2 separate regions of the Homo sapiens genome follow, and region 2 is linked to region 1. A link means that fine-mapping ties the variant in region 1 to the expression of a gene that starts in the linked region. Tissue or cell type: minor salivary gland. Region 1 holds a variant in brackets; the other region holds the start of a gene. All regions are shown on one strand. Distances are from middle to middle.

Region 1 (8,098 bases):
CCGGCTTCTCTGCAGACTCGGAAAATAGCTACGTCCTGAGCTGCGGAGTTCCAGGGCCGCAGGGCAAGGCGCTGCAGAAACGCAACGGCACCAGCTCTGGCCTCGGGCCCAGCTGCTCAGGTAACCCCCCCGGCCTGTCCATGCTGCATGCCACTGGGTGACTTGACTGCATCCAGCAACATGCTGGCGGGGGAGGAAAGGGCACCGCCCAGGGAAGACCTTCCTGCTCTCGGCCCTGCTCCGTGTGGCCTGGGGTGCTGGCGATGAGCCAGGCCCAGGACCTAGAAGCCAGCAGGCTGCAGGCCGAGTTCTAGCCCAGGGTCAGGGGACCGTGGGAGGGCCCTTCCGGCTCTGAGGTCACAGCCAGAGTGGTTCAGGGACTCTAACGTGCTGTGAGTGCACAGATCTCAGACTGTATGGGTGGAGCAAGCCACATCTGCTGTGGCTATTAGGTTCTCCCGAGTCAGAGCTGGCCTGGCCGTGCAGAGCATGCCAAGAAGCGCCGAGGTGCAGCACAGTCCCAGCCCTTTGGGAGTGACCCGCTGGGCTTGGTCGGCATGGCACAGCCAGCCTTAGCTCCTGCCAGCTAAGGAGCTGAGGGTTGTGTCTTCAGCAGCTTTTCTTATTCAGGATGCTGGATTTGATAGATAGGTGCATTTCTGTATGTTTCTTTATTATTATTATTATTATTTTTAAAACGGAGTCTCGCTCTGTCACCCAGGCTGGAGTGCAGTGGCGTGATCTCGGCTCACTGCAACCTCCGCCTCCCAGGTTCAAGCAATTCTCCTGCCTCAGCCTCCTGAGTAGCTGGGATTACAGGTGCCCATCACCACACCTGGCTAATTTTTGTATTTTTAGTAGAGACATGGTTTCACCATGTTGGTCAGGCTAGTCTGGAACTCCTGACCTCAAGTGATCCGCCTGCCTCGGCCTCCCAGAGTGCTAGGATTACAGGCGTGAGCCACCGCACCCTGCCCATTTCTATATATTTAATGCATATGTGATTTGATTCTAAGCACCTGTGGTGGTAGGATTCTTTAGTCCAAGGGCTATGATTTGCTCTTGCAAGGAACCGGCAGTCCTGGATCTATAGTATTTCAAAGCCCCTTCCCTTCCTTGCTGTCCTATCTCTCTTCTGTTCTACGCTCTTTCCTAAAGCACAATCATGGCTTGCTGATGGGGAGGAGGTAGGAGGATCCCTGTCCTCCTTCTCAGAAGACCTCTGGCGGGTGGCCCCTGGGCTTGAGCTTGACCCCACCATCCATGTGTTCACCTGTTTTAGGCCTTGCAGGGAGAGAAATGGGGCAGGAGAGGGTCCCCCACCCCAGGAGAGCTGTCGGGGCACAGGGACTCAGATCAAGCCCCACCCCCAGCTCCAGATGGATTTGTCCCCTGGCAGCCCCCGTCCCCCACCACCTCCTTGCCTGCAGGAGAGGCCACCACCTGGGGGAATTTTGGCTTTCCCCAGATGCCCCCACCACCCCCATCAAACAGAAGGCCCGCTTCAAGATCCGAGATGCCAAGTGCCACCTCCGGCCCCACAGCCAGGCACGAGCAAAGGAGACCGCCAGGCAGCCGCTGCTGGGTGAGTGGGACGCCCTGCTCCTAACCCACACCAACGGGGCTGTAGGAGAGTCCTCATGCCTGGGAGCTGGGGCCCCAGGGTCCAGCGAGTCTGGTTTCCAAGGGTGGAGGTCTCTCTCACCTGGCAGCTGTTTATTGAATGAGAGTTTCCAAGGACATTGCAGGCTGGGGAAACAGCGGAGGGCAAGCTTGGTACGAGGGGCCCCGGAGGAAGGCACCAGCTCTGTCCCCGTGAAGATTCCTTCTCAAACCTAACAGAGCTCTCAGCACGCAGCAGGCTCTGCCCAGAGCCGAGTCTGCACTGGCCAAACCCTCAGCAGGCCCAGAGCTGGGGGCACAGCCTCATTCATGAATATGTATGAGATGCCTCCACCTGCAGCAGCGTGATGGACCGGGCGTGAGACCTGGCTCAGCCACCAGCCCCTCCTGAGACCCCGAGCCAGCCCTGACCTTCTCTAGCCTGAGTTTTTCCGTCTGCACCACGGACCAGGAAGTCCTTGCCAATGGCACTCTGTATGCAGGGCTTGGTAGGACCTTGCTCCCTGCCCCATGCCGCCTTTGCCACAGTGGTCCTTTCCTCGTCCAGACCACTGCCATGTGACTTTCGTGACCCTCAAGTGTGACTCCTCCAAGAAGAGGCGCCGTGGCCGCAAGTCCCCATCCAAGGAGGTGTCCCACATCACAGCAGAGTTTGAGATCGAGACAAAGATGGAAGAGGCCTCAGGTAGGTGAGGGGTTCTCCTGGGGGCTTCTGCAGGCCTGAAGGAGGACGACAGGCTGGTGGCGCTGCCGGGGGCCTGCCAGGCATGAAGCTAGGCTCCCACCAGAGCACAGCTGTGGCTGGGATGGGAGCCCAGCTTCTGGAGACAGAGGCAGGCCCACAAGCAAAGGGAGCTGGCAGGGGTCAACGCTTGCAGCCCAGGATAGAAGAGGCAGCCCAGGGCAATGAGACAGAAGAGCCGAGGTGACCTCAAAAGTCACATGACCCTTATCTGCCCCTCCACACTCCTGCTGGGACCCGGGAGGACAAATAGGTGCAGCCCCCCTAGAATGGTTGAGCCAAGGATTGTCTTTCCTGGTTCCTGAAGGAGGTTCTAATGCTGGCTCGGGTGTCACAGCAGCACTTTGCTCTTGGCTATATGTGAGTGTCAACCTGTGAGTCGTTGATGTTGAAGAGATGGGATCTGTCAGCAGATAAGTGTGGTATGGGCCTGGCTGTGGGCTTGGGCGCTGTGGAAAGAAAAGTCCCCACCCAGGTAACACTCTCAGCCAGAGAGGCAGACGCACGTGCAAACCACCCATTGCCAGGTGGGACTCTCGGTGGTGGGGGCACAAGAACAAACAATGCATAGAACTGAGGTCTGCCCCCCACGGGAGGGCTTAGGAAATGTCTTAGTCTGGCTGGGCACACTGGCTCACGCCTGTAATCCCAGCAGTCTGGGAGGGCCAAAGTGGGTGGATCACTTGAGTTCAGGAGTTCAAGACCAGCCTGGCCAACATGGTGAAACCCTGTCTCTACTAAAAATACAAAAATTAGCCAGGTGTGGTGGCAGGCACCTGTAATCCCAGCTACTCAGGAGGCTGAGGCAGGAGAATCGCTTGAACCTGGGAGGCAGAG[A/G]TTGCAGTGAGCTGAGATCGCGCCACTGTGCTCCAGCCTGGCGACGAGTGAGACTCTATCTCAAAAAAAAAAAAAGGAAATGTTTTAGTCTATTTGCGTTGCTAAAAGGAACACCTGAGGCTGCATAATTTATCAGGAAAAGAGCTTATTGGCTCTCGGCTCTGCAGGCTGTCCGAGAACACGGCAGCAGCATCTGCCTGGCGAGGCCTTAGGCTGCTTCTGCTCACGGAGGAAGGTGAAGAGCAGCTGGCATCACATAGCAAGAGTAAGGGAGCAAGAGAGAGGGGAGGGGGTGCCTATGTCTTCACCAGTCACATCTCGTGGCGACTAGTAGAGCCAGCAAGAACTGACTACCACACCAGGCCATTCATGAGGGACCTACCCCATGACCCAGACACCTCCCACCAGGCCCCACCCCCAGCATTAGGGATCAGATTTCAACATGAGGTTTGGAAGAGACAAATATTGAAACCATATCAGGAAGCTTTCCCAGAAGAGGTGCCATTTGAATGAGAGCTTAGAATCAAAGCTCACTGGGTGGAAAAGGTGGCAAGGAATGGCATTCAGGCAGAGGGAATAGAATAGGCAAAGGCACAGAGGTCAGAGAGAGGAGGAGGTGTCCAGGAAGCAGTAAGTAGGGCCAGGTGGCTAGACATTGGAATCCACAGGGAGTGTCAGAGTGGAGGGGATGAGGCTGGCAAGGCCATACGGGGCTGGACCTTGAAGGGCCTTGGATTCAAGGCCAGAGAGCTGGACACTATCCTGGGGACAGTGGCAGTCCCCAAGAGTCTTTGAGTGACAGAAAGGCGTTCTTGCCCCGTGAGTCGTACCCTGGGGGGTGATGTGGTGCAGTGGCAGCTGCCTGGATTGCACTCAGATCTGCTGCGTGGCCGTGGGCAGGCCCTGCCTCCCAGGTCCGCAGCCTCCTCATCTGTCAGATGGGCATGACAGTGGCCCCTTGCCCCAGGACTGTTGTGAGAATGTGCTGAGGAGGTCCGAGCCCAGTGCAGGGCCTGGCACGGGGGAGCCCTCAGCTAAGAAGGCAGCGGCTAGCAAGGTTGCCAGCGATTCATGTTCTGTCTCTCCTGCCCCTGCAGACACATGCGAAGCGGACTGCTTGCGGAAGCGAGCAGAACAGAGCCTGCAGGCCGCCATCAAGACCCTGCGCAAGTCCATCGGCCGGCAGCAGTTCTATGTCCAGGTCTCAGGCACTGAGTACGAGGTAGCCCAGAGGCCAGCCAAGGCGCTGGAGGGGCAGGGGGCATGTGGCGCAGGCCAGGTGCTACAGGACAGCAAATGCGGTGAGTCCTTGCCCATGGCCACTCAGATGCTGACTCTGTCCTTCCTTGCACATGAGCCGGGGTAAACAGTGGTGGGCACGCAGGTGAGACAGACACCTGGGGAGGGGACAGAGAGATGCAGAGGCCTGCCGGGGAGAAGGACTGCAGCCCTCATGGTCATCACTGTCATTTGAAGAGCACTCCTCTGTGCTGGGCCTCGGGCATGTGATCACAGTCTGAGGAGGGACAAGGAGTGGACAGGACAGCAAGGCCACAGTCGAGGGGCGCGAGGGGGCACGGGAACCAGAACAGGCCCTCTCTAGTCTGGGATGTGGTTCAGGGAAGCTTCCTGGAGGAGAAGTCACGTTAGCTAAGACCTCAGGGCTCCAGGAGTTGGGGAGCCTGAGTCAGGGTCGGGGGACAGAGCAGGGATGTCGTGAGGCCTAGGGCCGCCCAGGAGGGCAGCGTCGTGCTGCAGGGAAGCAGGTGAGGCCGGCCCCCAGCGGGCGGGTGTGCGCTGGAGGGGAGAGCCTGGACGCAGGACAGGCAGAACCAGCACACGAGACAGTCCTAGTTCTAGTGGAGCTCACATGCCCGTGCGGAAGATGGACAGTGGGCCAGTGAACATGCCCACAGGTACAGTGAGGCCAGAGGTGATGGGGCCTGGCAGACACCACTCTTGAGTTGGATGGGGAGCCATAGGAATGCTTAGAGCAAGGACGCAGGCTCATGCGCGCTCTTACGGGAAGGCTGAGTAGCGGGGGCGGAGCAAGGACGGGGAGGAGCATGAGATGGAGGGGGCTCCTAGGGAGAGACAGACTTCAAGGACGACTCCAAGGGTTTGGCCAATTGGGCAGAGGTGGTATCGCTTCCTGACGCCGGCCAAATCCCCAAGGATTTGAGGAAGAGTGGGCTGGGGGGAGGGAAACTTGATGAAGAGTGGGCTGCGGGGATGGGGTGCGCAGGCTGGACATGTTCAGTCTGAGACGCTCACAAGTCATCCACATGGAGATGTTGGATGGGCAGTTGCAGCCACAAGTCCGAAGCCTCAAACAATAGGGTTGGCCAGGGGTGTAAACTGGGAAGCCGGAGGAGAAGAAATGATACCTGGCGGGGGAGGAGGGAAGCTGTTGGAGAAGAGGTGACACCTGGCGGATGGGGGGTGGGGGTTGGGGGAAGCTGTTGGTAAAGAGGTGACACCTGGCAGGGTGGGGAAGCTGTTGGTAAAGAGGTGACACCTGGCGGGGTGGGGAAGCTGTTGGTAAAGAGGTGACACCTGGCGGGGTGGGGGGAAGCTGTTAGAGAAGAGGTGACGGCAGTGTTGGGGGAAGCTGTTGGAAAAGAGGTGACACCTGGCAGTGGGGGTGGGAGGGAAGCTGTTGGTAAAGAGATGACACCTGGCGGGGGGTGGGTGGGGGGAAGTTGTTGATAAAGAGGTGACACCTGGAGAGGGCGGGGAAGCTGTTGGTAAAGAGATGACACCTGGCAGGGGAAGGGCCAGGTTGGGGAAGCTGGGACTCTGGCTCAGACAGTGGAGGGGGACAGCCGTACTGACAAGGGGGGACAAAGGGAGCTTGGTGATGTCATCTTCTACTTTCTTTTTTTGTTTGTTTGTTTTTATTTTTGAGACAGAGTCTCGCTCTGTAGCCAGGCTGCAGTGCAATGGTGTAATCTCAGCTCACCGCAACTCTGCCTCCCAGGTTCAACCTATTCTACTGCCTCAGCCTCCCAAGTAGCTAGGACTACAGGTGCGCGCCACCGTGTCCGGCTAATTTTTGTATTTTTAGTAGAGACAGGGTTTCACTATGTTGGCCAGGCTGGTCTCAAACTCCTGACCTCATGATCTGCCCACCTCGGCCTCCCAAAGTGCTGGGATTATGGGTGTGAGCCACTGCGCCCAGCCTCTTCTACTTTCAATAACTTATTTTGGGCCGGGCATGGTAGCTCACGCCTGTAATCCCAGCACTTTGGGAGGCCGAGACAGGTGGATCACCTGAGGTCAGGAGTTTGAGACCAGCCTGGCCAACATGGTGAAACCCCGTCTCTACTAAAAATACAAAAATTAGCTGGGTGTGGTGGCGAGCGCCTGCAATCCTAGCTACTGGGGAGGCTGAGACAGGAGAGTCACTTGAACCTGGGAGGCAGAGGTTGCAGTGAGCTGAGATCACACCACTGCACTCCAGCCTGGGTGACAGAGCGAGACTCCATCCCAAAATAAAAATAAATAACTTATTTTGAAATTATTTCAAAGTTTCAGAAACATTGTCAAGCAGAACAAAAAACTTCCATATTTTCTTCATCCAAATTCCCCAATTGTGCACATTTGACCACATCTGCCCCGTCTCCCACACGTGTGCATGTGTGTGAGTGTGCATGCATGTGTGAGTGTGTAGTCTTCACCATCCAACCCACACACCCACCCCATTCAGCTCCAGCAATCCTTCCAACAATGTCCCTTTTGTTTTTCTGGTCCCAGCTCCCATCCAGAAAGACATGTCACCCTCCACTGTGTCTTCAGGCTCCTTCAGTCTGGAGCCGCTTCTCCCCTTTCCCTGCCTCTCCTGCCCTTGTCCCAAACTCACCTCCTCTAGGCTAACGCTCAGAGCTCCCTCTGGTTTTTCCTGGGGACCTGACTCAGGGCCCAGGGTCCAGCAGGAACCTCAGCTTCGAGGCCTAATCCTGGGTGCCCCATCAGCAGGCACAGGATACCCCCAGCCCGCCACTGGCTTCACTTTCACTCGCCATTTTCTCTCTGTGATTGATGAGTGTTTTCTGAGTTTGGACCAATATTCTCCTCCTCATCAAACTTCTGCACAGCTCCCGCCATGTCAGCCACCTCTACCATTTGTTCCATGTTCCACGCTCACTAGTCACATTCTCCTGTAGGAAAGTGGGTGGCCATGGCCGTTTACCTCTGGGTCTGTATCCCTATAGACTCAGATTCCCCTTACTCATTGCGTGGTGATCCATTCCTGATGTTATTTAGTTCGGCGCTCACTGTGTCCCCAGGGTAGCCAGGGATGCCCCACCAAGCTGGCTCTTGGGTCTGTCTGACCTGCCACACACATGCTGCGAGCCTCCCCTTCAGATCCAACTGACACTCTCCATCCCCTGGCATCAGCCAAATCCCCAAGGACCCCTGGTTCCTTTGAGAGGAGGATGATGGGTAGAAACCAAAATCTGGGATATTCATTGCTCCTGGAGTACCACTGCCTCTAGGCCCTCTCATCGGACAGAACTGGAAAGCATAGATGTGTATACACGTGCACACACAGGCATGGGAATCTATGGGTGGGGGGGTTCTAAAACCATGAATTCATGCCAGTGCCTCCCGTTCCACACCTCAGGGTCTTTTCTAACCTTCACTCCCCATTTCCGCATTTGTAAGCATCTTCTCCAGCACTGAGAAACTCGGCTCCCTTTCTCCTGAATTTACTGATTTACTCAGTTTCCTTACTTACTCATCAGTCGACGTATTTGTTCAGTGTAGCCAACCAGACTGCGCTGTCTTCAGCCCATCATCTCCTCGCTACGCCCCTCCCACCTCGCCCGCCAGGCCCTCCTGCCCTTGCCTATTTGAGCCCCAGTCCCTCCCCACTGCCCCTAACTCCTCCAC
Region 2 (8,098 bases), 31 kb after region 1:
AAGGAGGAATTGTAAGGATTGGGGAGGCTCCAGAAAGGAACAGTTTCAGCTAGCTTTGACTCAGTGTTTTGTAGGAAGGCAATCTTTGAGTCCTGAATGGACTTGTTTTTTAGCCTCAAGGTATCAATGAGAAATACATACTTAGAGTGTATGATTTTATAACCATGGTCTTTTAATTTAAAGAATAAACTGAATGATCCCTATAATGTTTGAATATATTACTAGCTGGAGTCCTAGAAAATTTGGCATGCCTTTGAACTTTGAGACCTCATTTTAACTAAATATATCTAGGTGACTGAGATTGGTTTTTTCCCTTTTTTTTTTTTTTTTAGTGGCTTATCCAGCAAGTAAGGTGATTTAGTTTAATGTTGAGTACACAAAGGCCAAAGAAACACAAACAGACAGAAAATATAAGTATGTACTCACCAGGAAGAATAATAGTCATCTTCAAATGAGGGGAAAAAAATCCCCTCATCCAAACCTCAAGATCCAGACCTCACAGCTGAGATCAACAGGAGGAAAATAACCCTCCCCAACAGCAGATATCCCACACAGGACAGGGAAAGTCACCTCCCCAGCCATTTCCCAAATAAGAGAGAACTCAAACCAAATTCAGGAGTTCTGTCCAAGAGAGACTTACCAGGTGGGAGAAGAGGTGACTCACAAAGGTAGAAGGGTGTCAGAGGGCCCCAGTGTGAGATTCTCCCCAAAGTGGTTCAGTGCTTGGTCCCACTGCTGACACCATGTATGTCAAAATCAAAAATGTAGAGACAGCTCTGTAAACTTAATGTGTGTAGTTTTTTGTTTTTTTGTTTGTTTTTTTGAGACAGGGCTTCACTGTGTTGCTCAGGCTGGAATGCAGTGACACAGTCATGGCTCACTGCAGCCTCAACCTCCAGGGCTCCAGCAATCCTCCCGCCTCAGCCTCCCGAATATCTGGGACTACAGGCACCCACGACCATACCTGGCTAATTTTTGTATTTTTTGTACAGATGGGGTTTCACTGTGTTGCTCAGGCTGATCTCAAACTCCTGGGCTCAACCAATCTGCCCACCTTGACCTCCCAAAGTGTTGGGATTACAGGCATGAACTACCATGCCTGGCCTAAATGTAATGTTTTATTTGTGAAGAAGGAACTGCCATTCAGGGTGCACCTACAGACCAGGTGGTCTTTGCTTTGTCCGAAGAACAAAGAGAAGGTTAGAAGTTTTATTTAAAACAGAGAAATGGGCCAGGCACAGTTGCTCATGCCTACAATCCCAGTGCTCTGGGCTAAGGCAGAAGGATCACTTGAGGCCAGGAGTTTGAGACCAGCCTAAGCAACACAATGAGACCCCTGTCTCCACAGAAAACTTAAAAATTAGCCAGGCATAGTGGCACATGCTTGTAGTCCTAGCTACTCAGGAGGCTGAGGTGGGAGGATTGCTTGAGCCCAGGAGTTCAAGGCTGCAGTGAGCTATGATTGCGTCACTGGCCACTGCACTCTAGCCTGGGCAACAAAGTGAGACCCTTCCTCAAAAAGAAAAAAAAGAAGAAGAAATGTTACATATTGCTCTTTGAGAAAGTTCACTGGTACTTGTAAGGGTTTGGGGAGTTAGTAAGCTCAGCTTGGTGAGCCTTATTAGTCCTAGAGTTGCAGTCAGTTATCTCAGAAGTTATCAATAAATGGTTTTAGGTTACCACAAGCAGTTTCAGCAGTCGGGCTTACAGAGAATTACATTTTGGGAACAATGCCTTGCACCCCAAATGCTTTTTCCCTCTTGGCTTCTCAACTCTGTTTTAATTATGACAAGAATGACCCAATTTTTTTTTTTTTTTTTTTTTTTTGTGAGTTGGAGTCTCACTCTGTGGCCCAGGCTGGAGTGCAGTGGTACGATCTCGGCTCACTGAAACCTCTGCCACCAGGGATCAAGCAATTCTCCTGCCTCAGCCTTCCAAGTAGCTGGGGTTACAGGCACCGCACCAAGGCTAATTTTTGTAGTTTTAGCAGAGACGGGGGTTTCACCATCTTGGCCAGGCTGGTCTTGAACTCCTGACCTAGTGATCTACCCACCTCGGCCTCCCAAAGTGCTGAGATTACAGGGGTGAGCAACCACGCCTGGTGACCCAATTCTTATGATCAACTTTCACAAAGTCATTGTATTGGGTTTAGGCTCCATGTTGTATGAAAAACCCATTTTGTATGAGTACCCTTGGCAAAGCTCTCAGAACAAAAAGCTATCAGGGACCAAAGGTCAACCTGGGCTTGGATTTTCAGGATGGAAGGGCCTTTTTTATTTTTAGACGGAGTTTCCCCCAGGCTGGAGTGAGTTGATGCGATCTTGGCTCACTGCAACCTCCATACCCCCACCCCTGGGTTCAAGCAATTCTCCTGCCTCAGCCTCCTGAGTAGCTGGGATTGTAGGTGCCCACCACCATGCTCGGCTAAATTTTGTATTTTTAGTAGAGATGGGGTTTCACCATGTTGGTCAACCTGGTTTCGAACTCCTGATCTCAGGTGATCCACCCGCCTTGGCCTCCCAAAGTGCTAGGATTACAGGCATGAGCCACTGTGCCCGGCTATGGAAGGGACTTTTAAACTCTTTTTTTTTTCCCTGTTTCTCTCTCTCCTTTTTTTCAATTGTCTGGAGGGGGAGGGGGTTGGTGGCAGTAATGGGAGCAGAGCAGTAATTTTATGTTGATTAAATACACATTCTTCAGTGCCTCTTTAGAAGACAACATTTCAGCTGAGAAGAATGAGTCAGGATTTACAAAGTGAGCATGGGGAGAAAGGCTTTCTGGCAGAAAACAGAGCACAATGCTTTCCAGGAGCTGAAGACAACCAGAGATACAGGGACTCACAGTGTGAGGGGAAGAGTGTAATGAAAAGAGGCTGGAAAAGTTGGCAGTGCCAGCTCACACAGAGCCTTGGAGCTCAGGTGAAGAGTTGAACCACAAAGGGTTCCAAGTAGGGATCTGATACAACTGGGTTTACATTTGGGGAGGAGCATGTGAAAGAGGACTGCCCTGTCAGAGCCTCACATTCTCCTGGTCAAAGGGGCTGGGTCAGGAATGTTCACATAATCTGACCAGTACCTGACACAACTGAGACTCAGTCTGTCTTCCCCAGCGGGACCGATGGAAGGGTTGTGGAAGCGGGAGGTGCACTAGGTGTGTACCACTATACCTGGCTAATTAAAAATTTCTTTTTGTAGGGTCGAGGTCTTGCTTTGTTGCCCAGCCTGGTCTCAAACTCCTTATTTCAAGTGATCCTCCTGTCTTGGCCTCCCAAAGTGCTGGAATTACAGGTGTGAGCCAGCATGCCCCATCCTAGCATTGTGATGCTGTTTTACTATATTATTTATTTTGAGATGGAGTCTCGCTATGTTGACCAGGTTGGAGTGCAATGGTACAATCTCAGCCTTGGCTTCCACAACAAAAACCGAGGAATCAGGGTTTTCCTCTGGCCATGGTGAAACCCTGTCTCTACTGAATACAAAAAATTAGCCAGGCGTGGTGGCACACACCTGTAGCCCCAGCTACTTGGGAGGCTGAGGCAGGAGAATCACTTGAACCCGGGAGGCAGAGGTTGCAGTGAACCGAGACTGCACCATTGCACTCCAGCCTGGGCAACAAGAGCAAAACTCCATCCCAAAATAAATAAATAAATAAAATGTTTTTCTCTGCAGCCCTCACCAACTTGAGTTTGGAAATTTTTGCCTTTGCAGACCCACCTGCTTCCTACAATGGAATTGAACAAGTCCGTGAATTGGTGCATTTTATTCAAACTCAGTTCAAAAATGTTATCAAAATAGCATCTGAAGCTCCAAAAAATTTTCAGCCTTTGTTTTTTAGCAAATTACAATTCTTACAAAATTGCAAAAAGGAAGACATTGAAATGTATCCCTATGGAGCAATAAAACTCAATGAGAGTTCAAAAGAGAATGTCTTTTGAAATTCTATAACTGAACTGTTTTCTTTTAAAGAGGGAGTCTGGCTATGTTGCCGAGGCTGGACTTGAATTCTTGGGCTCAAGCTATCCTCCCGCCTCAGCCTCCCGAGTAACTGGGACTACAGACGCGGCCACCACGCCCAGCTCAACTGCACTTCGAAACATCCCGACATGTAGGAGTAAATTCCTCTGACGGGTACACTTGGTCTTAATTGGATCAACTGACATTCCGAATCCAAATATAAGTAATTGAGAAGGGCCACGATTTTGCAGCATCCAAATCTGGTGAAACGCTCACAAGAATCGAGAGCTCCCAAGGCAGGGGGCCTGCGAGCTCTGTGTGCCCGGTGCAGGCACAGAAGCGCCGCCTCACCGGGTTCGGGCCCCAGGACACCTTCCGGGCCGTCGGTGGGGCCTTTTCCGGTCCTGACAGCGCCCTATACGTAGGCACCCCGCCCTCCCGGCATTCCCCGGGGTCGCCGCGCGCTGAGCGAGAAAAGCTCAGCCACCATCAGGTGCGCGTGCGCACACGGCGGCAGCCAAACCACAGGCGCGGTCGCAGACGCGCGCCCCCTCCTGGCAAGCTCGCGCGCTCTCGCACGCACCCCGCCGATGCGCAGGGCCTGCCCGGGGGCCGCGGCAAACCGGGCTGGAGGCGGACTGGGGGCGGGGCGGGACGGGGTGAGGGGGCGAGAAGAGGGCGGGGCAGGGGAGGGGTCGGGGGGGCCGGGAGGAGGACGGGGCGGTGGGGAGGGGGGCAGGGGGCGGGGGCAGGGGGCGCGGCAGGGGCGGGGGGCTGGGGGGAGGACGGGGCGGTGGGCGGGGGGCTGGGAGGAGGACGGGGCGGGGGTGCTGGGAGGCGGGCGGGGCGGGGGGCGGAGGCGGGGGGGGCTGGGAGGAGGGCGGGGCGGGGGGGGGCTGGGAGGAGGGCGGGGCGGGGGGGGGCTGGGAGGAGGGCGGGGCGGGGGGGGGGGCGCTGGGAGGAGGGCGGGGCGGGGCAGGGGGCGGAGGCGGGAGGGCAGGGCCGACGGACGGCGGGCGGCGGCGGCGGTGGCGGCGCTGGAGTCGGCGCGGGTGCTGGCGCCATGGAGGCCGAGCGGGGTCCCGAGCGCCGGCCTGCGGAGCGTAGCAGCCCGGGCCAGACGCCGGAGGAGGGCGCGCAGGCCTTGGCCGAGTTCGCGGCGCTGCACGGCCCGGCGCTGCGCGCTTCGGGGGTCCCCGAACGTTACTGGGGCCGCCTCCTGCACAAGCTGGAGCACGAGGTGCGGGGAAGGGCGGCGGGCACGTGCGGCGGCCGGGGTGGGAGCGCGGCGGGAGCCCGCGGCGCGGGACAGGGAAGAGCGCTCCCGGGCGGCGGGAGCCGCGGTGAGCCACCCAGAGCGCGTCCTGGGCAGCTCTGGAGCGGCGTGGAGTTGGGGGCCGAAGAGTGACAGCAGGAGACCGGGGTACCTGCGGCCCTGATCTGCCCGGGCCCGAGACCGGCTGAGGGCTGCGTTGGGAACTTTAGGTCCTCCACACACCCGAGCCTGACACAGCCCTGCGAGGAGTGAAACTCATCACCCCCACTTCACAGATGAGAACACTGCGGCTCCGAGAGTCCCTTCAGAGGGATTCTTTCAGCCGCTGCCTCACAGGGACAACGGGAACCCCGTGAATTTGTGTAGCTGTAACTGTTGGGTTCACAGAATTCGGTGTTTTTTCATTTGATTTGAGCCTCGGGGTCCCCTCATCTTGCAGGTTAAAGAAAACAGGCTGTGAGAGGTGGAGGAGAAATCTAAAGAAAAATGGAAAAGATTGAGAAGCCTCTAGGTTCTCTCCCTTTTTGTGAGGACGGCCCATCCGGCTCACCTGCCTCCTCCACTCCAAAGCGTTCCCCACTGTCCTGGCTGGGGATGAGCCCTGGATTTTTATTGCGTGCCCAGAGGCTGAGGCCACAGCACCTTCCCGGGCTGGCGGGGGGGGGGGTGTTTTCTTTAGCTGGGACCCGACATCTCCTCCAGGTGCTGTCTCCCGGACGGAGATGAGCCTAGTGGCGCAGGTGATGAAGTGGAAACCCCAGAGCCAAGAACAGGGACCCGGGCCGGGAACTAGGAGTCCCTGAGCCTGGCTGCTGGCCAGACTCTACGGTCTCTGAGCCAGTTTTTCTCTGTGTAATCCTGATTGGACTAGGAACCTTCCTGCTGGAAACGTGCAGTGAGTGGCACCTCCTTATGCTACAGTGTAACAGAGAGTTTCCTCTGCCCCTCACTTCTGCCATATGCTTTCCGAGGACCACTCTGGTCCCAGGCCTGTGCTGGGTGGAAGGGACCTTGGTTTGTTCATGAGGACAAAAAGGTTCCCATGGGCTGCGTGGAAGGAGCACAGTGGGAATGACCAGCTCCTGCCCAGCCAGCCTCCACGGCAGCACGCCCTCCCTCGGGCGGTCACTCGCCCGTCTGAGACCTGTTCTCCATCTGGGAAGGGGATGGTGAGACACCATCTGGCTCCCACAGTATTGGAAGGATGGGAGGTGGCATGAGAAATATGCCTGGCACACAGAGGGTGGTCGCCACCGTGCCACGTCCCCTGCCCAGGCCGCCTTGCCTGCTGTTGCCCTACTAAGGGGCAGCCAGTGTTTTTCCGTGACCCTTCCCCAGCCGTTAAGGACAGAGCTGAATCACTGCTTTACCATTCACAAACTTGCAGCTCTTCCTGAGTGAAGCCTCCTGCTGCTACTGGCCCAGGTGTGGAGGAGGCCGCCAGCAGCAGCAGCACCTGCCAGCGCTGTGGGCCCTTACACCCCTGGCCATCAGCCCTCCTGCCTCACCTTAGGCCGGCTGCCCTGGAAAGGATGGGGAAACTTGAAGATACATACATATATATATATATATATATATATATATATATATATATATATATATATATATAATTTTTTTCTTTTTTTAATTGAGACGGAGTCTTGCTCTGTCACACAGGCTGGAGTGCAGTGGCATGATCTCGGCTCACTGCAAGCTCTGCCTCCCGGGTTCAAATGATTCTCCTGCCTCAGCCTCCCGAGTAGCTGGGATTACAGACGTGCGCCACCACACCCAGCTAATTTTTGTATTTTTAGTAGAGATGGGGCTTCACCATGTTGGTCAGGCTGATCTCGAATTCCTGACCTCGTGATCCGCCCGCTTTGGCCTCCCGAAGTGTTGGGATTACAGACGTGAGCCGCCACGGCCGGCCGAAGAGATGTTTTTAAAATGTCTACTCTTCTGTCTGCACAAGCTTCCCAGTTGCAAAACCACTCCCCTTATCTCCTGGGGAGCTCTTCCAGTCCTGCCATGAAGGGGTTGTGGTGAAGGAGAAACCCAGCACCCCATTTCACAGCTGGGTTGAATCCAGGCCAGGCTTGAGACAGGCTCTCTGACCCTCAGCCTCACGCTGTCCCCTAGGGATTTGGAGTACTGGGGCGGAAGCCCGAGGTCTGGATTCCAGCCCTCTGAGCCTCCCCCCAGCCCTAAACTGGAGAAGGCAGTAGCCTCCCCAGACCCACCTTGAGGGCTAAAGGAGAACTGGATGGCTCTTGTCTCAGGTGCCTTGTCTCTCATGTGACCCCTGGTTTGCTCCACCCTGGGCTATCTGCCTCCAGGCCTTCGCTCTTACTCTTCCCTCTGCGTGGAGTTCCTTTCCATCCTCACCCCGTAGCCTCATGTTTAAATCTTCCCCTTCTTCAAAGCTGGCCTCTGGTTATGGTTCCTCATCCATAAAGTCTTCCCAGGCCCTCCAGGCCCCAGAGCAATTTACCTGATACTCTTAGGTGGCCTAGACCTTACTCAGCCTGAGCTTCCTGAGCGAGACCTTGAGTGATTCATCCTCACGCCACCAAAGGGCAAGTCCTGCCCAGTGCACAAAAGCTGCCTGCACCTGAGTACTTAGCTAGTTTCCAACTGCCGTTTTTAATCGAGTAGTGGGAAATACGTTTTAGGGAGGAACTGGCCTTTGTTGAGCCTCCACTGTGCGCCAGGACTTTATGCACGCTGTTTGATTTCATTCCATCAGTGTCCTGAAAGGTGGATGACACCCCCTCTCACAAGTGAAGAAACAGTCTCAGAAGTGTAACAATGGCGCCACGTGTTTATAGAGCATTTGCTGTGGCCAGGCTCCACTCTGAGTTCTGGGTATGAATCACCTAATCCTCCCAGT

Evidence for each region. PIP is the estimated chance that this variant, and not a neighbour inherited with it, causes the effect.
Region 2: TTLL12 starts here. The variant in region 1 is fine-mapped to the expression of TTLL12 in minor salivary gland (GTEx, PIP 0.91).

Annotation. Positions count from the first base shown.
Region 1 is chr22:43,214,660-43,222,757 of GRCh38, reverse strand. SCUBE1 (signal peptide, CUB domain and EGF like domain containing 1) reads left to right here. Exons shown (of 22, transcript NM_173050.5): 12 at 16-120; 13 at 1,469-1,585; 14 at 2,171-2,308; 15 at 4,300-4,503. Among named protein-coding and RNA genes, the nearest start is that of SCUBE1-AS2, 6.0 kb to the right of the region's middle. RefSeq lists an enhancer at 2,010-2,511. The variant A/G (reference allele first, on the strand shown) is at 3,203.
Region 2 is chr22:43,183,988-43,192,085 of GRCh38, reverse strand. TTLL12 (tubulin tyrosine ligase like 12) reads left to right here and starts at 4,952. Exons shown (of 14, transcript NM_015140.4): 1 at 4,952-5,193. The coding sequence starts at 5,017. RefSeq lists silencers at 4,539-4,658, 4,907-5,066, 5,107-5,326 and enhancers at 5,707-5,766, 5,777-5,856, 5,797-6,301.